Linked DNA regions of Homo sapiens. The protein of the gene in region 1 interacts with the protein of each later gene in a pairwise test. Each region holds a gene or a part of one and is shown in the gene's direction. Other genes may lie near its edges.

Region 1 (3,500 bases):
AACCAGAGTATGGGGTTAGAAATGGAGGCAGAGGGACTACCATGTCGGGGAGGATGCACAATGAATTGGACGAAGGTTGCAACTCAGTGAGCACCGTACCTGTAGTGTGTCTTAGTAATAGCAGATGCCCAACCTCCATGCCTAACTCCTTTGCCTACCCCACCAGTGTGCAGCAGCCTCTGCCGCACCCTACTGCAGTCTCTCCTATTTCCCTGGCAGGAGAGCTCAGAGACTACTTGTGAACAGGCCTCAATGCCTATAGCAAGGCAAGGCTTGGGAGAAACAAATGTCCTCTGGGAGCAGCCTTGGGTAAAAGATTAACTGCGCACTGAGCTTTAGATCCCTGAGTGAGAAAGCTGTGGGAAAATGAGTGTGTAGCTCATGAGAGGGTTTGGAGAAAAGTGGTGACATCGCAAAAATCCCAGGTTTTGTTGAAGTTGTCTGTGGAGGGGCACTCATAGAAAGGGCACTGGACGTGAGCATTTCCCTTGTAGTTGAGATGGGATTTGACATGACTTCCTGGTGGTGGCAAGACAAGAAAGTGGCAACCTGGGACAGTGGACCTCACAGCTCTCCTGCTAATGGTGCTGATGGCTAAGCTCAGCTCTTACCCTTGACCACTGGAACAACTTAGACATGTCACCAGCTTTCTGAGCCTGTCTCATTACGATGAAAATTGTGATACAGGTTAGTGTAAGGACCGACAATAATGCATATAACATCAATAATGATGGATATAGAATTTCTGCAGTTATTATAATCTGGCTCTCCAGTATGGTAGTCGTGGGCCACATGTGGCTATTGAGTTCTAAAAATGTGGCTAATAGAACTGAGGAAGTGAATTTTCAATTTGATTCCATGTTTGTTAATTCGAACTGAAAAACACCACGTGTGCCAAGTGGCTGCCATACTGGAGAGCGTGGTCAAATGACATGCCTAGCTCAGTGCCTTTCGCATGGGAGGTATGCAGTACTTCCTGCCACGATGGCTGTTACTCTTGTCGTTGTGAGCAGTGCCTTGGTCCCGATGATGATTCTCCAAAATGTAATCTCTGCTGACAGAACAAGAGTCTGCAAATTGGGAGTCTGGAAAGGGAAGAGAAGGGCTTTGTCCCTGGCCCCAAAGACTCAGGGAGAGGTTTACTGGCCAGGTAGAAAGGGCGTCCAGGTGAAGGGACCCTGGTTCAGTGATCTCCAACCTGCACGTCTCATTTGTGAGGAAGCCGTAGGGTGTGGACTTTTCTTGTTTCTGACCTTGAGTGATTAGAAAATAGCAGCTTTTATATGTCACAAATGGACTTTAGATAAGCATGAAGATGACGAAGACTGTGGAATATGTAGCTAAGAGTCTTACTAAAATCCTCTCTAGTGTATTTATATATTTAAGCGTTTGGTAGTACTTTTTTAGCCATCAGCGTTCTCTATATTAGGTTGATACAGAAGTTATTGAGGTTTTTGCCATTGAAAGTAATACGTCACTTCATGCAGAGGTGGAATTGGCGCTCTGAGCTTGCTTGTCAAATTCACAGGCATTCACTTTTCTTTCATAAACATTTAGGACTCTGTATTTAGGAGAGGAATCACTGTGAATGTAGACCTCGGGTTGGTCATTTTCCTAGTAAGATAGACCAGACTGACTGGAAAAGTCACCCTCTTGGGCTATCCTGCGTATGTGGCTCGGCATTGCTTCCGTCAGGATAATGCATCAGTTTCTTGGACAAAGGGTGCATTTCTGCTATTTGAATGCAGACATATTTTTGGATATAAGCCACGCAGTTGCATCCCATTTCTTCCGTAGGTAAAGGCTGGGTTTCTAATTGTGATTGAGAAGCTTAGCATAGATGCAATGTCCCTATCACCAGATGGCTAGTGTGCTCTGCCTTGTCTGCCTTTTACCTTAGAGAGGGTGCTTCCTTCTGACACGGGTATTGCTGGAGTACACATTCTGTTGCATGAGGTCAGGGGAGCAAGAAATACAACCCAGACTTGCGCTCGGAAGCCCTGCCTTCATTTCTTCTCTGTAGCTGGCTCCCTTAAGTATTAAACAGCAGTATTCTAATATCAACGTCCCTTTTTTATTTGCTGTGACTTGCTGTGACTACGGTGATTTTAGTTACAGTAATTAGGTCACTCTTCATGGAGTCGGGCTATTTTAAGTGCCTCTTTAAGGAATATTGTTGCAGATCAGTAATTTTACAATTGGATGTTCTTGTGCAACTTTATTAAATGTGATCTGTCTTTTAAATGTTGCCCTTTTACAGTTACACATTTCTAATTGTTGCTGTAAATGCATTATCACTTTGAAATTAATTAATTTTTCCATTTTGGCTGCCTGCAATATAATAATCACTAATGAGAAACTCACAGGAATCAATTCTCAGCACAGCGGCCCCTACTGGTAAAGCCATGTCTCTGCCTCCCTCTTCTTCTTCAGATCCAGAGAACTGGACAAGTGTATTGGGGCGTCCTGGGAGGGAAGTGTTTGTTTCTTCCTCCCTTCAATTTATGGTGAAATAAAAATCACAGATAAACTTGGAAAGTGAGTTATTTTTAAGTGTCGTTCTAAAAAAGATGCAATATACTTCAAATAGCTGCTTCTAAAATATGTTAAAGGAAACTAACATTTGCTGAGTACTTTCTAATAATGAAGTCACATCATACGTGCATTACATGTTTATTTTCTTGACTCTAGAGCATTCTTTTATGCAGTTAAATTACTCTAAAATGTTTTGCACCTGCACGCATTAATGTGTATTGTTTGGTAAGAACTTTCGAGTTGGTGAAAAAATGTATTGTATTTTAGTATCTATATTTATATATACATATTAGTCTATGGGTTTTAATTCACAAAACCAGGTGTTGTATCTGGTGCACATAAGGGATTTTCAAGGCTAATCTTGGGTTTTTGCAGTTGTAACCATGTGTGATGACTTTAGAATCCTACCACACTTCCAAATAGAGATGCAGATTGACCATTTTCCCAGATACCACGATGCTTTATGTATCAGCATATATTTTCATTAATTTCTCATAATTTCTGTTAGAATTAATAATTCCAAGTTCTACAATCTTAGAATTATTATCTTTATTTTGTAATTGAAAAGCACAGAAACCTCATGCAGCGTGTTCAAGAAAATGATATACCAGCCTTGTAAACTTTCACTTGCTAATTGCAGCTGCATTTGCTTTGTCCAATGCACGGTAATGCCCCTGGCATCCATATCTAGTTATGCAGTTATGCTTCCTTTTTAAAATGTTTGACAGCACCTTCACTGAAATGAATGCTGCCACCACCGCCAACCCCACCTTTTTTTTTTCCACATAAGCTTTCATTTCTGGTAAATACATCCTTGCCAGAGTTCCCAGGTCCAAGCCGGTCCTTTGTGGACCAGTATGCAGATTTGAAGTTGAGCACTGTCACTTGCCTCTTAGGAGTGTTTTGTGCAACCACATATTTGTGTTGGCAGATAACAGTAGAAAGAATATCATGTGTTAGGGTAG
Region 2 (4,074 bases), on another chromosome or scaffold:
GACTTCCCCCTCCTCATTTCTCTCCACTCTGCCACGCACACACCCTCACCCTCCAGCCCATACCAACCACCCCAACCACTGCCTGTGGTTTCCCATGTGCACCCAGGCCAGGCATTTTCACGGCCTTTCCTCCTGACCTACGCCTGGCTCAGCTTTCTAGGCCCAAGTTCAAAGACACCTCCCTAAATCTTCCCAGATCCCTCTGCTACTGCCCAGCACCACCATCTTATCACAGCCCCACGTCGTTCCCAAGTGCTCTCCGATTTCTGCTTAACTCCATGCCTCTCGCTGTGTGTCCGCATCTCATCAATAAGTCCTCAAGTCCTCTTCCATCCTGCTAGCTTCCTCATCGCTCGGGAATCATCCCCGCTACTTCCTGGGGAAACTGACTCCCTTCTGGGCACACACAGTGCTACCCCCGGGGAAATCTAAGAAGAGACCCAGGAGAAGATAAGCACGGAGAGTCAGAGAATCAAGGGGAAAGAAAGGGAGAGAGGCCGGGCACAGTGGCTCACACCTGTAATCCAGCACTTTGGGAGGCCAAGGTGGGTGGATCACCTGAGGTCAGGAGTTTGAGACCAGCCTGGCCAACATGGTGAAACCTCTTCCCTACTAAAAATACAAAAAACATTTAGCCGGGCGTGGTGGTGGGTGCCTGTAATCCCAGCTACTTGGGAAGCTGAGGCAGGAGAACTGCTTGAACTCAGGAGGCGGAGGTTGCAGTGAACTGAGATCACACCACTGCACTCCAGCCTGAGTGACAGAGCAAGACTCCGTCAAAAAAAAAGAAAGAAAGAAAGAAAAGAAGGAAGGAAAGAAAGAAGGAAGGAAGGAAGGGAGGAAGGGAGAGAGGAAGGGAGAGAGGAAGGGAGAGAGAGAAAAAAAGAGGGAGAGAGACACAAATACAGAGACTGAGATGGGAGAGAGAGAGAGATGGAAGCTCCCTCCCCTCCATGGCCAGGGAGACAGATGGAGCAAGAGACCTCAGGGGTGGGCAGACTTGGAGGAGAAGGACCAGGAGGATGTGGAGTGCCGAAATCTCCAGTCAGGGCCAGGTGGGCAGTCAGAGACTGCAAAGGAGGACTGTCAGACAGGGACAAAAGGAAGCCATTGATGTAACCGCCCTCCCGCCTGCCCGCCGGAAGAGAGGTTGAGGCCGGAGCTGCTGGGAGCATGGCACTGGGGTGCTGGGGGCGGACAAAGCCCGATTGTTCCTGGGCCCTTTCCCCATCGCGCCTGGGCCTGCTCCCCAGCCCGGGGCAGGGGCGGGGGCCAGTGTGGTGACACACGCTGTAGCTGTCTCCCCGGCTGGCTGGCTCGCTCTCTCCTGGGGACACAGAGGTCGGCAGGCAGCACACAGAGGGACCTACGGGCAGGTGTGTGAGTCACCCCAACCGCACTGAACCTGGGCAGGCTGCTTCCCAGTGCCGGAGGGCTCTAGAGCCCGGAGTGAGGGCCTGCAGGTCCCTGGGTGGCACAGAGAGTGCTGGGGGTGCAGGGAGGCCTGGGGCACCATCTGCTTGCCCCAGAGGCCGGAATTTGTCTTCAGACACTTTCTTTCTCCAAAACCCGGAGGTCTAAGGACTGAGCCGACTAGAACTTCCTCTGCCTCAGATTCAGGCCCCAGCCCCTCCTCCCTCAGACCCAGGAGTTTAGGTCCTAGCCCCTCCTCCCTCAGACCCAGGAGTCCAAGTTCCCACCTCCTCCCTCAGACTCAGGAGTCCAGGCCCCCAGCCCCTCCTCCCTCAGACCCAGGAGTCCAAGTTCTCACCTCCTCCCTCAGACCCAGGAGTCCAGGCCCCAAGCCCCTCCTCCCTCAGACGCAAGGGTCCAGGCCCCCAGCCCCTCCTCCCTCAGACTCAGGAGTCCAGGCCCCCAAGCCCCTCCTCCCTCAGACCCAGGAGTCCAGGCCCTCACTGCACTCAGGGACCAGTGCTCCCTTCCCTGGAGGCCTGGTCAGGGGTCACCAAGAGCAGAGCGTGGGGGCGGGAGGAATGTGTGTGGGAGGCCTGGGTAAGGAGGAAAAGGGTGTAGCCAGTCTCCTGGCTCAGGGACCTGAGAGACAGGGGTTAAAAGGACGTTCCAGAAGCATCTGGGGACAGAACCAGCCTCTTCCAGGGAGGCCTGGGAGCTGGGGGTGTGTGTCTGGCAGTCCCTGCAGCCCTGGGCTCTGCGGCCCCTGCGTCCTCCGCTTGGCTCTGCCACTGCATCTGAGTGTCTTCTCTCCTCACGGCTCCCCGCATTTCTAACTCTTTCTGCCTCCTCGTCTCAAAGCTGTTCCTTCCCCCGACTCAAGAATCCCCGGAGCCCGGAGGCCTGCAGCAGGTGAGATCACAGACATCACAGAACCTGCCGGGTGGGCGGGGTGGGTGGCCATTGCGCACAGAGCCAGGCTCCGAGGAAAACTCCCATACAGAGGAAGAACGCTAGGGCCCCCTAGGGTAACCCTCTCCTGTCGACAGGAAGGCAAATCAGTGCCCAAGAAAGTAGAAAGATCTAATCAGAATCTCACCATGGGTTACTGGACCAGTGGACGTAGTTCTGAATTCTCTTTGGCACTGTTTTCGTGGGATCCTCTGATGGAAGATGTGGGCTGAGGAAGAATAAATCAGGAGGCTAGATGGGAAGGACAGAGGTCAAGGCAGGAGACCATAGCAGGCCAGGAAGGAAGGAGAGGATGCAGAGGGAGCAGACAGAGGGATGGGGGGAGGGTCGAGGCAGTGACTAATGGACCATGTGGCTTCCCCTCTCAGGAGCGGCCATGAAGAAGCTGATGGTGGTGCTGAGTCTGATTGCTGCAGGTGGGGAAAGGGCATTTGGATGGGGGAGGCTTGCAGACAGGGTTGGGCTTGTTGATGGAGAAGAGGCTGGTATTGGGGATGGGGATATGCACAGGGTTGGGGTGGGGGAGCTTTGAAATGAGGAAGACGTTGGGGATTAGGCTAAGGGTGGGGAATACAGATAGGGAGGGTGGTGGGAGGTGGGTTTGAAGATATGAGGGTTTGGGGTGGGGTTGGCTTTAGGGATGGGGATCTAAACATAGAAGAGGTAGGAGGTAGGTTGGAAAGTTGGAGAGAGCCCGGGAATAGGGGATACAGTTGGGTTTGTAATGGGAATGGGGTAAGTTTGGGAGTGGAAATACAGAGAAGCTTTTTTTTTTTGAGACAGGGTCTCACTCTGTCACCCAGGCTGGAGTGTAGTGGCATGATCCATAGTTCACTGCAGACTTGAACTCTTGGGTCTCAAGTGACCCTCCCACCTCAGCCTCCCAAGTAGCTGGGACTACAGGCGTATGCCACCATACCCTGCTAATTTGTGTGTGTGTGTGTGTGTGTGTGTGTGTGTGTGTGTGTGGAGATGAGGTCTCACTGTGTTACCGAGGCTGGTCTCAAACTCCTGGGCTCAAGCGATCCTCCTGCCTCAGCTGGGATTACAGGCATAAGCCACTGCACCTGACCAATCTTGACTGGAGTTCATGTTGAGGGGGATGCGCTTGGTTTCTCCAGAACTCCTCTCTGACTCAGATCTTCTCTCCCTCAGCCTGGGCAGAGGAGCAGAATAAGTTGGTGCATGGCGGACCCTGCGACAAGACATCTCACCCCTACCAAGCTGCCCTCTACACCTCGGGCCACTTGCTCTGTGGTGGGGTCCTTATCCATCCACTGTGGGTCCTCACAGCTGCCCACTGCAAAAAACCGTGAGTCTACACTGTAAATGAACAGCAGATGCGACTGAACCCTGAGGGTGTCTTATAGATGTCAGGCAGGAGGTGACATAGGCATCCCCCCCATCCCAGCACGAGGCCATCTGATAGCCAGGTGCATTCGGCTGTTGCTTAATTGAGTACTTAATGTGTGCCAGGCCCTGCGGGCATAGCAGTGGAAAAGAAAATAAAAAAAAGAAAACAAAAAAAAACAAGCAAAATTGCTGTTTTCCTGAACTTACTTTCTAATGGGGGAATTGGATCATTTGGGGACCTGCAGGGCGTGATGGGCATTTGGATTTAATTCTGAGCACAGTAGGAAGCCACTGGGCAGTTTTGTTTTTGTTGTTTGTTTGTTTTTTGAGACACAG
Region 3 (3,500 bases), on another chromosome or scaffold:
AATAGTCCACTAACTTGACTTTCCCACAAGACATATATCACAATAGAGTTTCTTGCTAAATGTAGATATTCAGATTGTATAAAAACAAATGCTCATATCTCTATCTGGTTAAATTCACAGAGCATGATTACTTAAACAAGGTATATAACAGTTTGAAGGCATATGCTGTACATTGCTTAATGATCTCCAGGAAAGTTATACCAATTATTCTCCTAGCAGAAATCTACAAAACTACGCATTCCCTCACATTCATTCTAAAACACTAGGAATTACGTTTAAAAAAAAAAAAAAAAAATCCTTGCCACCTTAAGGGATGAAAGATAGTATTTCATTATAATTTCTAACTGGCATTTATTTGATCCCTGGTGGTCCTTTGGTATTCCTTCTTTTAGAGAAGTAGGCAGTTTATGTCCTTTGTCCATTTTCTTCTATTAAGTAGGGTTACCTATTTTATCCATGTTCTACATAGAAAATAAAAACATTCAAGTGCTAAACCCAGCCTAAATTCTATTATGATGCAAAGTAATTGTAGGTTGTTAATGCTATTTACAAATCATATATCTATTTTATTTCACCATTGAAATAAAAAGTTGCATTCACAATTAAGTCTGTCTCCTCAGGAGAACTCAGTCAAGTAAGACAAACACTCCTAAATTTTGACTCTAAAACTGTTCACATTCTTATTGCTGCGAAATACTATTCTAGTATCATTATTAAAGTACCTAATATATTTCTGTGTTCGCTTCATTTATTACATGCCATAATGGGACTGCATATCTTTAGTGCCGGTTATGCACAATTAGCACTTAGTTATTGTCTTGTCACTTCAGCCCCTACAAGACAAACTAATGCGGGAAGTCAGCTAATCTTCATCAGTCAAGCAAAGCAGACAAATTTTGTTACCCAGGATACAGAAGGTTTTCATATAGGAGATTCTCCTTTTACTCTGAAGTTTGCTTCAGTCTCCTCCAGGAAACCCATATCCCACTTCCAGTAGCCAAATCATTGTCGCAATATTGCACTTTTCAAGTGAAACACAAGGCAAATAGGTAATTCATAGGCATTTTCTCTTAAGCAAACTTTATTGACGTCTAAAGTTGTGGAATTACGCGTTTGTGAATTGTATTCAGCAGTCATTTCATCTTTACCTTTAAATCAAAGTATCATTAAGATCCAAAGCATTTCTGAATGTTTTAAAAAGTAGCAGTAATAATAACCTTTCAGGATTGATTGTCCCTTATATATAGATCTCCTCTGCCCCTTTTAGAGGCGTATAGCTAAAACGTGAATCCTGCATTAAAATTCGGCTAGTTTCTCTATTTTAAAAGGTACCGCAGGAGGGTTATTTAAGCTTATTTTATGATATCTTGAATCTCATTCAGAATTGGAAGATTCTATATAACAGGTTAATTTCTTAAAGGTGAATAAGCCCCTTCTCCTTAGAAAACACAATAAAACTAAATGATAGTTTTGTAAGAAAAGGAAAAATAAAAAGCTTGTGATGAAATTTTCCCAAATATGTAAAATTATGTAACAATTAATTAATTTTCTTTTTTTTAAGAATAAAGCACTGTGCTAGGCTCTGTGGAAGCTGAGGTGGATAAAATCTGGTTTATTTCTTAGAGGTGTCCGGAGCTACGGGAGAGACAGGACATCAAAGACTCACAGAAGAGTGTAATCGATGCTAAATAGAGCTATACTGAGGGAAGAGAGAGCCATCCTTCTTGAAGTGTTAGGGAAGCATCAAAGGCCTGATATGCTGGGTCTTGAAAAAAGAACTCCCTAGAACTGGTTGACTTACAGGAAGTGTGTCTGCTCGGGGTTGGGGAAGATGAGGGAGCCAGGGAGCAGTGAGGAAAGGAATTTTCAGGCAAATTGAGCAACGTGCAAAGGCATGCAGATGTGAAAGCATTTGACGTGTTTAGGAAATGAAAAGCGGCTCAGTATGTTCAGAGATTAGAGAAGCGGTTTGGTAGGCACATGGAGGAGTAGAAAGAGAGCAAGCACCTAGAGGAAATGAAATTGTAAACTTAGTCTTTGAAAAGCCATTAAATAAAAGTCAAAATGAATACAAATTTAAATTAGTCATCTAAAATACATTTGTTATTTAAAGCTGTTGGTTTCTGGAATAAATCTACCTTAACCAATTTTTATTGACCACACACCTTAAGTGGTAGTACAGTTTATGATGGTTCTGCAAAGGGTTCAAAAGAAATATAACTCGTGGTCATTTACCGCAGAACTGCTGACTATAATGGCAAACCAGTTACACATTCATGAGAAATTTTGAAACACCAAAATAAACAATACACCAATAAATAAGTGCTTTGGGAAACATCAGAATAAGCAAATTTACATGGTCAGAAGATGTTGATGGAGGCAATGGGAACTCAAGGATTGTTACAATTTAAGTAGACAGAAAAAGGGGAGAAATATTTCTTGCTAGGGAACAACTTAAGTAAAGGTGAAAAGATTATCATTACCAAATAATAATGATAGCAAATTCTGATAAAGTATTAGTCAAACACCAAACACCGTTCTGAGTGTTTTACATGTACTCATTCGTTTAATACTCAAAATATCCCATAAATAGGTAGTTATTAGCTTCATTTGACAGATGAGGAAAGTAAAGTATAGGAAATGTAAGTAACTTGCCCAAGATTACAGTTAGAAGAAAGTGGTAGACTCAAGATTTAAACCTGGCCGGGCGCGGTGGCTAATGCCGGTAATCCCAGCACTTTGGGAGGCCGAGGCGGGCGGGCGGATCACGAGGTTGGGAGATCGAGACCATCCTGGCTAACACGGTGAAACCCCGTCTCTACTAAAAAATACAAAAAAATGAGCCGGTCGAGGTGGCGGGCGCCTGTAGTCAGAGCTACTGGGGAGGCTGAGGCAGGAGAATGGCGGGAACCCGGGAGGCGGAGCGAATCTGGTCTCCCTCTCCGGAGTCAGGCCCATTTCAAGAGAGGTATTTTATTTTCTGACTAAGAGCATATAAATGTGAATAGATATAGTGGACTTAAAGTAAGGTAAACTTTGAATAATGTATAGCAAGATTTGGGGTGTGGGTAGTGTCATTTGATACACTAAGGGTTGTTAGCAGTGAGATGTATAATGACAACCGGACTGTCAGTGGGAAAGACAGTAAATTTGTTCACAGGTGTATAGTGGAGGAATGAGTACACAACCCGGACTTCTTATTGAAAACAGTATAGTATAGAAATCTCTAACTTACAGTTAACTGAAGATGTGGAATAGGAAAGTATAGACACTAGAAATATGGATTGGAGCTCCCTAGCTAAGTGTTGTAAGATAGAAATTAATCATAATTGTCAGTCACTAACATTAGGGAAAGAAGATGGCTAGGCTAACATTTTTATTTCTTAAAAGGGATGTTACCAGTGGAGGCTTCTTAGCATAGGCTTTTGATAACCTGCTTAAAACTAAGCACTATATTTTATAAGGATGATTTACTATTTACACTTGTTTCATATACTTCT
Region 4 (3,500 bases), on another chromosome or scaffold:
GAACCTCTCCTGCCACGCAGCCTCTAACCCACCTGCACAGTACTCTTGGTTTATCAATGGGACGTTCCAGCAATCCACACAAGAGCTCTTTATCCCCAACATCACTGTGAATAATAGCGGATCCTATATGTGCCAAGCCCATAACTCAGCCACTGGCCTCAATAGGACCACAGTCACGATGATCACAGTCTCTGGTAAGTGGATCCATGAAGCACTAGCATCACATTTTCAGGTGGAGTCTGGCTCTCAGAGAAGAGCCAGGAAGAAATTTTCTTTCCCAACCTGTGTCCAAGGGGCACACGCAAATCCCAAATTCTCCCCTGAACCCTCCCAATTCACCTCTGCAGACTCTTTTCCCCTTGTTTTTTTGTTTTTTGTTGTTTTTTGTTTTTTGATTTCTCATGTCTGACTTTGGGTCCATCCTGGAATGAGAGGAGGGGGCTCCCTCAGCACTGAGCCCTGTGTAGTGAAAGGGGCTTCACAGAGAAAAAAGGAGGAAGGGTCCTCAGGGTCAAGTTCCTGCTCTCTGTCACCAACAATTCCCTTTCTGTCACTTCTTTGTGTTCTTTTACCTACTCCATAAGCTACAAGGGACAAGGAGGTTTTGAAATGAGCTCACACTTTTTCCTTAAATGAGAAGAGGAAGCCCCTTGGGTGATGGAGGAGCAGCTCAGACTCTGCCCCCATCTCTGCTCCCAGCACCCCCAGTGACTGACTGACCCCACCCTGAAGCCACCTAAGGTGGAACCAGGGCATATGGAGAAGGTGCCCAGGTGTCTGTCCTGAATCAGGCTAAATCAAGATGCTAATCAACACCAAAGCCTCCCCTGGATCAGGCCGCAGGAAAATGGGAAGACATGGAGCCTCATGACAGACTGCTGAGCTGTGTCCTGGCTCTGAAGTCACTGGCTGTATAAGACTGTGGGCACAGCACATGGGACACAGCACAGAGGACAGCAAGTGACGCACACTTGGAGACATAGGGAGATTCAGCCATGGGGACTCTGCATGGCAGGGAAGGGGCAGTGACAAAAAGTGTGTATTTATAGAGAGGATAAGACTACCAGCCACTATGTATCTAATATAGGACTTACCTTTTCAACCCTTCCACGTGTGCAGGTCCGTAGTATTAAACACATTCCCGTTGTTCTGCTACCATCACCACCACCCACCCACAGAACTCTCTTCTTCCTCCCAAAATGAAACTCTGTTCCCATCAAACTCCTGGGCAGAGCTGCCCACCTGTGACCCACAGCCTGACCCCTGAACTCACCTCTAGACTTGCTTCTGGTCTCCCGCTCAAACCCCCATCCCCATCATCACCCATCTCCAGGATGTCCTTAAATAGCAAAGCCTCAGAAAAAACACACCTTGGCTGGGTGGTGTGGGACTGTGCAGCTGAAAGAAACAGCACCTGCATGTTCCAGGTGAGTACCCCAAAAGACCAGGCAGTCAGCCAGTCAGGGAAGAAACAGGAGAGGTGCCAGAGGCTGTGGCTGTCAGTCCTGTATCTGCCCAAGACTCAATGCTTCTGCCCTATTCACATTTGAGAAAGTCTGTACTTCTCCCACACAAAGCAGGTGGCCTCGATCTCCGAGCCCTCAGATCGTTGTGCATCCGTCTTCTGACACACACACCTGCCCTGGGCTCTTAAGGACTTGGGTGGACTGAGGGGTGGGAGATGCCAACTCTGACTGAACGATGCCTGCAGAGGAATCAAAGGTGCCACACACGGCAATCTTCTCTCTGTTTTCTGCACAGCGGAGCTGCCCAAGCCCTCGGTCACCAGCAACAACTCCAACCCTGTAGAGTTTTCTACATATAAGTTTAAGTTATCTGTGAACAGAGATAATTTTACTTCTTTCCGATTTGGATGTCTGTTTATTTGTTTGTTTGCTGCCTAATTTCTCCAGCTAGGACTTAAAACACTATGTTGAAGAGAAGTGGGGCAAGCAGGCATCCTTGTCTTGCTCCTGGTCTTACAGGGAAAGCTTTCAGTCTTTCTCCATTGAGTATCCCTCTATTATGTTGAGGTGGTTTCCTTCCATTCACAGAGTGTTTTTATTTATAAAAGAATGTTGAATTTTGTCAAATGCTTTTATTGGCTAAATCTTATTACTAATTATAGGTCTATTCAGATTTTTTTGTGTGTTCCAGGAATTTGTCCGTTTCATCTAGGTTATCCAATTTGTTGGCATACAATTATTTACCGCACTCTTTTAATCTTTATTATTTCTGTAGAATTGGTAGCAATGTCATCAATTTTTTTGAGAGTAGGTCTCACTCTGTAACCCAACCCAAGCTGGAGTGCAGTGGCTTGATCATAGCTTACTTGCAGGCTGAACCCCCTGGGCTCAAGTGATCCTCCTACCTCAGCCTCCTGAGTAGCTGGGACTACAGGCATATGCCATCATGCCTGGCTAGTTTAAAAAAAAAAAAATGTGGAGACTGTGTCGCCCTATGTTGCATAGGCTGGTCATGACTTTCTGGCCTCAAGCAACCCTCATCCTCTGACCTACCAGGGTGCTGGAATTAAAGGTGTGAGCCACCATGCCCCCATTTTCATTTCTGATTTTAGTAATCTGAATCTTCTCTTTTTTTCTCAGTCAACCTAGTAAATGATTGTCAATTTTGTTGATCTGTTTTGAAGAACCAACTTTTGGTTTCATTGACTCCCTTTATTGTTTTTATAGCCTCCATTTTATTTATTTCAGTTATAATTCTTATTGTTTCCTTCATTCACTATCTTTGGGTTGATTTTGTTCTTTTTCTATATCCTGAATTTGTAAAGTTAGGTTGTTGATTTGAGGTCTCTCTTTAATGTAAGTATTTACCACTATCAATTTCTTGCACAAGATTCTTAACTTCTCTGAGCCTTCAATTCTTCAACTGAAAATTGCAATAATTCTCATCACTAAGAAATGGGTGGAAAAAATGAAAATTGAAATAACAATGCCTGTTTCATAGTATCGTTTTGAAGATTTAATGTAACATTTGATTAAGCCTTCAGCAAAATGCCACACACAAAGAAAAGCTTCACAAATATTAGCTATTATTATTACTACTGTTACCATTAACCTTAAAGTCAGGTAGTCCTAGAGTCAAATTCTAAATCCACTTGTCACTAACCATGTGACTTTGGATAAGTTTTCTCATCACCCTAAGCCTCTGTCTTTTCATCTGTAAAATGGAAATAATGTCTACCCAAGAGAGTTACTGTATAAATCAAATGAGATACAGGTAAAGTATTTAGCACAGGGCCTGGTATCTAGGACATGCCCCTCAACAGTAGCTAACCTAGCATTAACCATCGCACTGAGATGACTGGTGAGGGCTAAGCACCAAATGGAAACTCACTAGGACATGGTTACTGGCTAAACATGGGAGAGAGGAAAAACAGTGCAAAGAATCAAGCCTGGTATGTTAGCTTTCATCCACTGAGATGCAGCCAAGATGGGATTAGAGGTACAAGATAATTCACTGGGTAAAACAGCCATGAG
Region 5 (3,500 bases), on another chromosome or scaffold:
AAACCATGGTGAGACCATGGTGGCTGGAAGTAAGTCAGCAAGAGAGGGCAGGGTAGGTCAGAAGGTGAGGTCAGAGAACCAGTAGTAATAGATCATGGAGGGCCTTGGGGTCCATGTTAGGATTTTGTATTTTATTCTTAGATGGAAAGTCATTAGAGATATTTAAGCTGCTCTGACTTTCAGTTAACAGAATTGGCCGGGCGCGGTGGCTCACGTCTGTAATCCCAGCACTTTGGGAGGCCAAGGCGGGCGGAACACGAGGTCAAGAGATCGAGACCATCCTGGCCAACATGGGGTGAAACCCCGTTTGGGCCAGGCACGGTGGCTTACGCCTGTAATCCCAGCACTTTGGGAGGCCGAGGCGGGCGGATCATGAGGTCAGGAGATTGAGACCATCCTGGCTAACACTGTGAAACCCCATCTCTACTAAAAATACAAAAAAAAATTATCCGGGCATGGTGGCAGGCGCCTGTAGTCCCAGCTACTCGGGAGGCTGAGGCAGGAGAATGGCGTGAACCCGGGAGCGGAGGTTGCAGTGAACCGAGATCGCACCACTGCACTCCAGGCTGGGGAACAGAGCAAGACTCCATCTCAAAAAAAAAAAAAAAAAAAAAAAGAACTAACATTGCTGAATAGAGAATAGATTGGGTGATAAAGGGTAAGCGTGGAACAGACCATTTAGAAGGCTAATAGTAATCCCATCTAGAGATGATGAGATGACAGGTGAAGTTTGTTACCTGTTTCCAAGGCTTGAGAGACTCAATTAAGAAAACATCACTAAAGCCCCTCATACAGCCCATTTCACAGTTTTAGCTCCCAGTACTTGTTAATTCTCTTCCTTTCCTTGGAGTTTGCCTTCAGCTGTGTTAGGGTCTTAAGGGAGAAGTTATTATGTAAAGATCAGCATCCAGACCCCAACAGAAGTCTCTCTTTTTTTTTTTTTTTTTTTTTTTTGAGACAGAGTTTTACTCTTGTGGCCCGGGCTGGAGTGCAGTGGCGCAGCCTCTGCTCACTGCAACCTCTGCCTTCTGGGTTCAAGCAGTTCTCCTGCCTCAGCCTCCTGAGTAGCTGGGACTACAGGCATGCGCCACCATGCCCAGCTAATTTTGTATTTTTAGTAGAGACAGGGTTTCACCACGTTGGCCACGCTGTTCTCGAACTCCTGACCTCAGGTAATCTGCCCGCCTCGGCCTCCCAAAGTGCTGGGATTACAGGTGTGAGCCACCGTGCCCGGCCAAGACTTTTTTTTTTTCTTGAGGCACTGAAGTTGGCTCACTGTGTTCATTCTGTTTTCCCACCCACCAGAGATCTTAAAAAGACTGACGCTGTGCCAGAACTCTTGGACAGCTCTGTTCTCATTAAGGCATTCAATCTTCAGTTCTTTCTGCAGTTGCTATCTTAGACACAGTTTGAGCAGCCTCTTTTACAAAGTGTCTTTTCAGCTACCTGGTCTTGGAAGCAGGAGCCCTCTGATACTCATCATGACAAGGTAGTTTAATATACCTGAGAGAGCCCTCTCAAGAAAATAAGGAGATTTTTGTCGTCTTTAACTTTTGAGCTTTTCCCCCACTCCTTTTTTGCTGTGATCTAAAGCCATAATTTGCCACCTTGGTTTCTGAAATATGGGAAAAGAAGTTCGTGTACTTATTTAGGAAAATCGTATTTCTGTTACCTAAGGAGCTTGCATTGTTGACAGGGCTTCTTTCGCTACAGAAGGCCCCATCAATGTCTGCTTGCTTGGGCTGTGTATGTCTGGTTGGTAAACATCACTAATGAAACTCGTGCGGTCTTGACATGTCAGGATTGCCTGCACGAAGAGAGCTGCTGGCAGCCTTTCTCCTTGCTTTAGTCTGGGAGCAATGCATTTCTTTTGAGGGGGTGGGAGAGGTAGTTCAGGAGGTCTAATTGCATGTCAGGAAGGGTGAAGCCCCAGAAATTTGCAAACAGAATTTGCTTTAACAGTGGTTAATTGTGCCTCCTAGGATGCTTTCCTCCTTCCATTTAAAAGTGAGTTCGGCCGGGTGCGGTGGCTCATGACTGTAATCACAGCACTTTGGGAAGCTGAGGCGGGCGGACCACCTGAGGTCAGGAGTTTGAGACCAGCCTGACCAACATGGTGAAACCCCATCTCTACTAAAAGTACAAAAATTGGCTGGGCATGGCGGCATGCGCCTGTAATCCCAGCTGCTAGAGAGGCTGAGGGACGAGAATCGCTTGAACTCAGGAGTCAAGGGTTGCAGTGAGCCAAAATTGTACCACTGCACTCCAGCCTAGGTGACAGCAGAACTCTGTCTTAAATAAATAAATAAATAAGTAAATAAATGTAAGTTCATGGCCGGGTGCAGTGGCTCACACCTGTAATCCCGGCACTTTGGGAGGCCGAGGTGGGCGGATCAACTGAGGTCAGGAGTTCGAGACCAGCCTGGCCAACATGGTGAAACCCCGTCTCTACTAAAAATACAAAGAAATTAGCCAGGCGTGGTGGCGGGTGCCTTTAATCCCAGCTACTCGGGAGGCTGAAGCAGGAGAATCGCTTGAACCTGGGAGGCAGAGGTTGCAGTGAGCCAAGATCGCACCATGGCACTCCAGCCTGGGCAACAAGAGTGAAACTCCGTCTCAAAAAAAATAAAATAAAAGTGGGTTCATATTACTGGCTCACAAGTCAGACATTGGGTACCTTTGCAATCATATAATGTGCTGCTTCTGAAAATGTCTGGCTGGTCTCCAACCAGGCCTATAAATGGGCTGGCTGAGCCAGGCCCTATGAGGGCCCACTCTCCTCAGGAATACTGAGACATTATAAATGCACCTGTACTTTCCAGTTGTATGAATAGGTGCTTTCCAGTTTTATTTCTCCCATCCATACATCTGTGGTAACTGAAAAATCATTTTAACCATAGTGATATTTGACAGCAAATTGTCGTCACAGATAAAGATGTAAGTATACTTTCAACCAACACACTGCTAATTAAATTGCTTTATGTGTCTAAACTTGGGCCTCACGCCAGTCATATCCAGTGTTCCTACTCTCTTCTTCGAATGAGTTGCCTTGTGTTTCATGACCTTGTTTTTGTTCATTACAGTGTGAGCCACTGCCCCATGTTGTGTTGATGCCAATCTGCCATGCTAGCCTGTCTACCAGGGCCAGGTGACCTGTCCTTTCAGCTTCTTTCTCACACGCAGATGAACACTGGACTTCAGAAATGTAAGTAATCTGGATCCTATGGAGCATGTGTGATTCTTTGTTTTTGTCTCTACATTTGGGCCGTCCTTGAAGCACATCTGGGGTACACTGACCTTGAATTTTGACACCTTTCTTTTTTTTTTTTTTTTAAGACGAAGTCTTGCTCTTGTCACCCAGGCTGGAGTGCAATGACGCGATCTTGATTGGCTCACTGCAACCTCTCCCTCCCGGGTTAAGCAATTCTCTTGCTTCAGCCTCCCGAGTAGCTGGGATTACAGGTGCCCACCACCATGCCTGGCTAATTTTCTATTTTTAG
Region 6 (2,789 bases), on another chromosome or scaffold:
AGAGGTATCTTTCACTTCAGCAATTGAATTAGCTAGCTATTGTATATGGTAACCTGATGCAACTTACTGATTGGTTCATAAGACATATTTAACACAAAATCAGCCTATGGGAAAATAGATTTCAGATATTAAAATTCCCTGTGGGTATCTGGATGGTACTATCCCTAGATAACAGCTGGGGACCTTATTTGCAGAAGAGGAGCCGGAAGACAAGCTGAGCTGATTTTCCTGTTTCTCCCTGAGCTTTGCTCTTCCAGGAGTCCCCCACCCCTCCTCCCAAAGAGGCTCTCTATTGAGATTGTTACTGCTATGAAAGCCATATGTTACAGGTTCATGTAGCCATTCTATGTTGAAGGCAAGCTTCCTTGCACAAAGCATTCCAGGAAGCCACTCTGATTTCTAGATCTTTATTTACAGGGTTTTTGTTTCATTTGCCAGTGATATAGTTCGAATTTTTTTAAAAAGGCTTGTAGTATATTATGACCCATTGAGATGCATTTGCTCTTCCAAAAAGCACGTGTACAGGTCTCTTCTGAGCACATCTGCTCCTCTTTATGCACACCAGGAAAAGATTAACTCAGCTGTTCTGTTTTCCAGATTTGACTGAAGAACGACTTGGAGACGGCAAGTCGGCAGACAATACAGAGGTCTTCAGTGACAAAGACACTGACCAGAGGAGTTCCCCAGATGTGGCAAAGAGTAAGGGCTGCTTCACCCCTGAGAGCCCTGAGATAGTGTCCGTGGAGGAAGGGGGATACGCTGTCCAGAAAAACGGAGGCAACCCCGAGAGCCGCCCTGACAGCCCCAAGTGTCACGCGGAGCAGAATCACCTCCTGATTGAGGGCCCCTCGGGGACTGTTTCTCTGCCCTTCAGCTTGAAAGCCAACAGACCGCCGCTTGAAGTGTTAAAAAAGATATTCCCCAACCAGAAGCCAACGGTGCTTGAGCTCATCCTCAAGGGCTGTGGCGGGGACCTGGTGAGCGCCGTGGAAGTCCTTCTGTCCAGCCGATCCTCAGTCACGGGAGCAGAGCGAACTTCCGCAGAACCTGAGAGTCTAGCGTTGCCCTCCAATGGGCACATCTTTGAACACACCTTGAGCTCCTACCCCATCTCGTCTTCCAAATGGTCTGTGGGATCAGCCTTTCGAGTCCCAGACACGTTGAGGTTTTCTGCCGACTCTAGCAACGTTGTCCCCAGTCCCTTGGCTGGGCCTCTGCAGCCCCCTTTCCCCCAGCCACCCCGGTACCCGCTGATGCTGAGGAATACTTTGGCGAGAAGCCAGTCGAGCCCCTTTTTGCCCAATGATGTCACCCTGTGGAACACCATGACGCTGCAGCAGCAGTATCAGCTGAGGTCCCAGTATGTCAGTCCTTTCCCCAGTAACTCTACCAGCGTCTTCAGAAGCTCGCCCGTCCTTCCTGCCCGCGCCACGGAAGACCCTCGGATTTCCATCCCTGATGATGGGTGTCCATTTGTGTCAAAGCAGTCCATTTACACCGAGGACGACTATGACGAGAGGTCTGACTCCTCAGACTCTAGAACACTCAACACATCATCTTAAAGTGGTGCTGGATGGGTGGTGGCCAGGTGACATTTTCTGTGCGTTTTGACCCTGAGGCATCTGAGGAGAGGCCACATCTTGTGTATGCCCTTTCCTTCTGTTTGACAAAGTGACTGTGCTTGATTCTATACATTAGCAATAAAAACATAACTTATTTAACTTCTTGCACTTCACTGGAAAATGCCAAATAGCTCTGTTCTGTGGCTTTAGTGCTGAATGTTTATTGTAAAAGAGAGTCTAATGTTAAGAATAGTCTTGGGAAGGCTGGGTCCGTGGAAGATTTATTTGGGGATGTAAAGCTGAAGGTCAGCCTTGCACCTAAACCCAACCTGGAATGTTAAATGAAATAATATACTTGAATGCAATTTTGTAAAAGTGGATTCCTCAGGATATGTGAAACCTAAAGGAAGTGGTTCTGTTGCAAATGGACTATAAACAGGGACATTATATTCTTACACTAAAAATCCTTGCATTTTAAAGAGAGATGCACTTAAGAATAGAGTGAACTGCTCATATGCTTATTTAAGCTTGGACAGTTTTCAGAGACAAACCCCATTAAGAATTACTCTTTTCACATGGCTGAATCGAAACATGTGTAATGTCAATGTAAAACCAATCACAGCTGTGAACTGCATGAAATGTATTGTGAAACGAACACAAGATTAAGCTTTGTCAGGTTAATGTAGCATGTTAAGGACTCTAGAAAAAAATAAACTAAGGAGACGAGCGTGGTTTATGTCATTTCTACTTGTGGAAAGAGGATCTCTAAAAATAGAAACTTGATGTAAAAATGACTTTTACTAACGCATGGGCCAGGAATCAAATTATCAGTTAAATGAGACATTCCTGAGAAATATGAATGGCAAAGTTTTAGGGTTGCATTCAGAAAGATAATTTGTTCAAAATGGAGTTAATTCTCTCCATCCATTCACTTATTCAACAGATACTTACTGAGTGCCTACTATGTGTAAGAGAATGTGCTTTCCATGTATTGTCCAAGTTACCTACCCGTGAGTCCTAGATAAGCAGATATTTTAGTGGAGAATCCCATTGAAAACAAAGTAAAAATGGAAAACTCCCAACAATGTATAGTTGAGTGTGGGAAGCAAGGAAAGTGCTTAGCCCAGTACCTGACATAGGAAGTATGCAGTCCATGAAAACTACTGCTTCTATTAATGAAATTCAGTAGCCTTGCATTCAGAATATAGACGTGCATTCCTTCATTCT
Region 7 (3,500 bases), 9.3 Mb from region 1:
TGGGCCCTTGGCTGTTCTCTGCCCCCTGCAGGCTGGCCCGGCCCAACCAAGTTGTCATGGGGCCCAAGACTCACAATACACCTGCCTGAGGCCACGATGCCACGGAAAGCTGGGCTCAGGGCAGCTTGCTTTCTCTCTGGCTGAGTGGAGGCCCTTGCTGTGTCCACAACTCCACTTCCATCTGCGCCTCAGGTCCCTGATAGGCTGGGAGGTTGCGGAGGGTGTGGGCCTGGTGCTGCTGTGGCTGCAGGTGCCCCCTAGGCAGCACCTCACCCTCTGAGGACCCTCCTCTCTGAGCTGCATCCCAAGGACAGTTTACAAAGCCCTTTGCTGACTGGGGTTCAGCTTATCTGTTGAGCAAACTTTTTCTTTAAAAAGTTTCTTGGCCAGGCACGGTGGCTCACACCTATAATCCCAGCACTTTGAGAGGCCGAGGCAGGTGGATCACCTGAGGTTATCAGTTCGAGACCAGCCTGGCCACCAGGGTGAAATCCTGTCTCCACTTAAAAATACAAAAATTAGCCGGGCATGGTGGCACACGCCTGTAATTCCAGCTACTCAGGAGGCTGAGGCACAAGAATTTCCAGAACCCGCAGGAGGCAGAGGCTGCTGTGAACTGAGATCATGCCACTGCACTCCAGCCTGGGCAACAGAGCGAGACTCCATCTCAAAAGTTTCTCAAGCCAGTGTCTCTAGGGCCTGAGGGCTCCAATCCCCAGTGTGAGGTGAGGCGCTCGGGCCTGGGAGCTGATGCCCAGCATACAGTCGGGGGTGCCCCTGCCAGGTGTGGTGCAGAGCACGGCGGGGGTGTGTGAGACCTGAGGATAGCGTCTGGATGTTTCTCTCACGTTAACGGGAATGAGATAGGCTCATTGGCTGCTCATCCCCAAATCCAAATGGAAAACCGCCATTCGGGCCAGGCAGAGGCAAGTACTCCCACCCGTTGCCGCTGCCGTGTTGAGCCCACCGTGCCGAGTGGTGTTGGCAGGAGCCTCCCGAGGAAGCTGTGCCAACGCAGGAGTGGTCAGAGCCTGTCCAGGCCACAGACGGGGCTACGATGAGCACTGCTGCCCAGGGCATGTTGGGGGCAGCTCCTGGAGACCACAGGGAGGGGAGGTGGGCACCCAGGTGTGGGCAGAACTGGACCAGGAGGAGGAGGGGCAGCAGCTTGCTCAAGGCACAGGGCCTCAGCCACAGGGTGGCGGGCTGGGAAGGGGCGAGGGTGTGGTGGGTTCTGAGTGCCCCATGCAACGGCTGTTTTGGGCCACGTGCTCAAGCAGGCACCCAGGGAAGACCAGCCTAGGTGCTGGCGTGAGGCCCTTCAACATCAGCTACGATGCTGCTTCATCAGGAGCACAGCCTGGGGAAAGAATGAAACTGACCCAGGAGACAAAAGGGTCCCCGGGCCAGACGGTCAAGCAGGAGGCTGCTTCGCTGCCGCGGGATGTGGCATCCAGGCTAGGCAAGGGGACGGCAGGCTGCCATCCCCAGAGGGAGTTCTCCGGGCAAGGCCGTGACCCCACTGGGGCTCTGAGTTTGCATCCTTCCTGTGTGTCAAGAGCAGAGCCGGCCACTGCCAGCCCATAGCTCCCATGGTGCGGCCCTGGAGAGCTGACTTCATGCGGGATGTCTGCTGTTCTTTGCGTAGCTTTACTGAGACAGAAAGCGTGTACTGTTCACTTCAGGTGGCCACAGTGTACAAGTCAGGGATTTTAGTGTATTCCCAGTTATACAGCCATCACCCCCAATTCTATCTAGATCAGCTCCATCACCTTAAACCTCAGGGCCATTGAGCAGGCACTTGCTGTCCCCTCCTCCCCCAGCTCCCGGACTCTGCTTTCTGCCTGGTGCCCAGCTTCTCACGCAGCATGCACTGCTCCTGCGCTTTCTCTGTGGCAGCCGCGGTTGCACGGCCCATGTCTTCCCCGCTGTGTGTTCATCCTCCACTGGACAGCTGGCTCTGCTTCCACTCCGTGGCTGTTGTGAATCCTGCTGCCGGGAGTGTGTGCACACACAAGGTTTTGAGTGGAGGCTTGACTTTGCCCTCTTAGATTTAGGCCTGGGAGTGGAACTGCTGGGTCCCCGGTGTTCTCATCAATTCTCTTCCAGTCTCTGGGAGAGGAGCCAGCAGCAGCTGCTTCGTTGTGGGTGGGGGGAAGGGGGAGGCCCGTTGTTCGGGCTCCCCTCCTTAATGCAGGCCTGAGCAGCCCTCACCTGGTGCCACATGAGCTACTCAGTCTTAACAGACCACCCCATCATGTCTTTGAAATTTGACCAGAGGCCAGACTTGGGGGCTTAAAGGAGTCCATGGAAAACCAGTCTGTTAACAGGGAGGGGGAGGAGAGTAGCCATCCCTGAGGAATGTGCATCCTGGGACCTTCAGGACAAGCCCTGGTCCATCTGTGTCGCACAGCAGCAGGATGTCTGCGTGGTAGGAAGTGGAGGGCTCCGGGGGCTCTGAACAGCTCCTTACCACAGTGGGGTCTACATCTCCTTCCAGGTGGCTGCGAGATGCAGGGCGTGGTGGGGGTGGGGAGAGGCAGGGGCAAGTGTCCTCTGGAAGCAGACTGTGGGCAAGACTGGAGTGGGTGTCCCAGCCATTCCTGGGCTGGGGCCACCGTCCAGGAGGCGTCCATTCCCTGTGCAGCAGGTACTGTATCTGTAGGGCAGCACCCACCCCTGCCGTCCTGGGAGCTTCCCAGAGGGGCCACGCTCCCTCTCCCCCTGCCTGGTGTGAGCAGAACACAGCAGAGTGCAGGACTGCAAGAATCACTGCAGAAGGGCGCCCCCGGAAAAGGCTCTGTTGTGAGACGTGTCCTACCTGGCCCCGGCAAGCACAGGGAAGGTGGCAGCTTGGTCCGAGTGCCCAGGCTGTGCGGCTGAAGGGGGAGTCTGGCACTTGGGGCTCCGGCGGAGGCTGAGGACTTGTGAGCCACTTCAGGGAGGTGGTGGCAGCAGCATTCAGGACCATAACCTAAATCCAAGGCAGCTCGCAATTGGACACAGTCCTCCAGAGCCAGTTGGCGTGAGGGGTTTGTTGAGGAAGGTGTGGTGAGGGGGGGTTTTGTTGAGGACACTGTGCTCACGGACTTTGGGAGTCCTCTGAGTTCCAGGGCCTCTCTGCTGGGCTGCATCTGACACTGGCCATGGCAGCCATGCGGGCCCTTCTGAGATTCTGAGGTCCCAGTTCCACAGGGCAGGAGAAGCCTGCTGACTGGCACAAAGGCCACACGCACCGAGACGTTTGCTTGCAGGGAGGCCTGGGTGGTTCTCTCCAAGGGGACCCTGGGAGAGCTGGTACTCAGGGTGTCGGGGCCACAAGGGAATTCCAAGGGAATTCCAGGACCAGCAACCTCAGACGTACAGGCAGCTGGGGCTTCTCTCCCGCGTCTGGACTTCACGGAGCTCAGGTTCTGGTGGGCCTTTGGTGTCCAAGCGTTTCTAACATCCTCCCGTACGCTTCCACCCCCGAGGGTCTGCTAGCTTGGTGAAAAGACGTG

The links.
Region 2: the proteins of WWOX (region 1) and KLK6 interact in binary tests that used the Homo sapiens proteins (3 or more experiments, as listed by UniProt).
Region 3: the proteins of WWOX (region 1) and LMO3 interact in binary tests that used the Homo sapiens proteins (3 or more experiments, as listed by UniProt).
Region 4: the proteins of WWOX (region 1) and CEACAM6 interact in binary tests that used the Homo sapiens proteins (3 or more experiments, as listed by UniProt).
Region 5: the proteins of WWOX (region 1) and FAM222B interact in binary tests that used the Homo sapiens proteins (3 or more experiments, as listed by UniProt).
Region 6: the proteins of WWOX (region 1) and DMRT3 interact in binary tests that used the Homo sapiens proteins (3 or more experiments, as listed by UniProt).
Region 7: the proteins of WWOX (region 1) and JPH3 interact in binary tests that used the Homo sapiens proteins (3 or more experiments, as listed by UniProt).

The regions. Positions count from the first base shown.
Region 1 is NC_000016.10:78,435,154-78,438,653, forward strand, and holds part of WWOX (WW domain-containing oxidoreductase), read left to right. Parts: intron 1-3,500. UniProt on the Homo sapiens protein: Putative oxidoreductase. Acts as a tumor suppressor and plays a role in apoptosis. Required for normal bone development. May function synergistically with p53/TP53 to control genotoxic stress-induced cell death.
Region 2 is NC_000019.10:50,966,792-50,970,865, reverse strand, and holds the start of KLK6 (kallikrein-6 isoform A preproprotein), read left to right. Parts: upstream 1-1,274; 5' UTR 1,275-1,376; intron 1,377-2,098; exon of another isoform or gene 2,099-2,274; 5' UTR 2,275-2,325; exon of another isoform or gene 2,326-2,349; intron 2,350-2,512; exon of another isoform or gene 2,513-2,593; intron 2,594-2,753; 5' UTR 2,754-2,761; coding exon 2,762-2,801; intron 2,802-3,369; exon of another isoform or gene 3,370-3,540; coding exon 3,541-3,697; intron 3,698-4,074. UniProt on the Homo sapiens protein: Serine protease which exhibits a preference for Arg over Lys in the substrate P1 position and for Ser or Pro in the P2 position.
Region 3 is NC_000012.12:16,554,163-16,557,662, reverse strand, and holds part of LMO3 (LIM domain only protein 3), read left to right. Parts: intron 1-3,500.
Region 4 is NC_000019.10:41,762,030-41,765,529, forward strand, and holds part of CEACAM6 (cell adhesion molecule CEACAM6 preproprotein), read left to right. Parts: coding exon 1-194; intron 195-3,500. UniProt on the Homo sapiens protein: Cell surface glycoprotein that plays a role in cell adhesion and tumor progression. Intercellular adhesion occurs in a calcium- and fibronectin-independent manner.
Region 5 is NC_000017.11:28,766,291-28,769,790, reverse strand, and holds part of FAM222B (protein FAM222B), read left to right. Parts: intron 1-3,083; 5' UTR 3,084-3,123; coding exon 3,124-3,205; intron 3,206-3,500.
Region 6 is NC_000009.12:989,444-992,232, forward strand, and holds the end of DMRT3 (doublesex- and mab-3-related transcription factor 3), read left to right. Parts: intron 1-597; coding exon 598-1,562; 3' UTR 1,563-2,289; downstream 2,290-2,789. UniProt on the Homo sapiens protein: Probable transcription factor that plays a role in configuring the spinal circuits controlling stride in vertebrates.
Region 7 is NC_000016.10:87,693,008-87,696,507, forward strand, and holds part of JPH3 (junctophilin-3), read left to right. Parts: intron 1-1,629; exon of another isoform or gene 1,630-3,134; intron 3,135-3,500. UniProt on the Homo sapiens protein: Junctophilins contribute to the formation of junctional membrane complexes (JMCs) which link the plasma membrane with the endoplasmic or sarcoplasmic reticulum in excitable cells.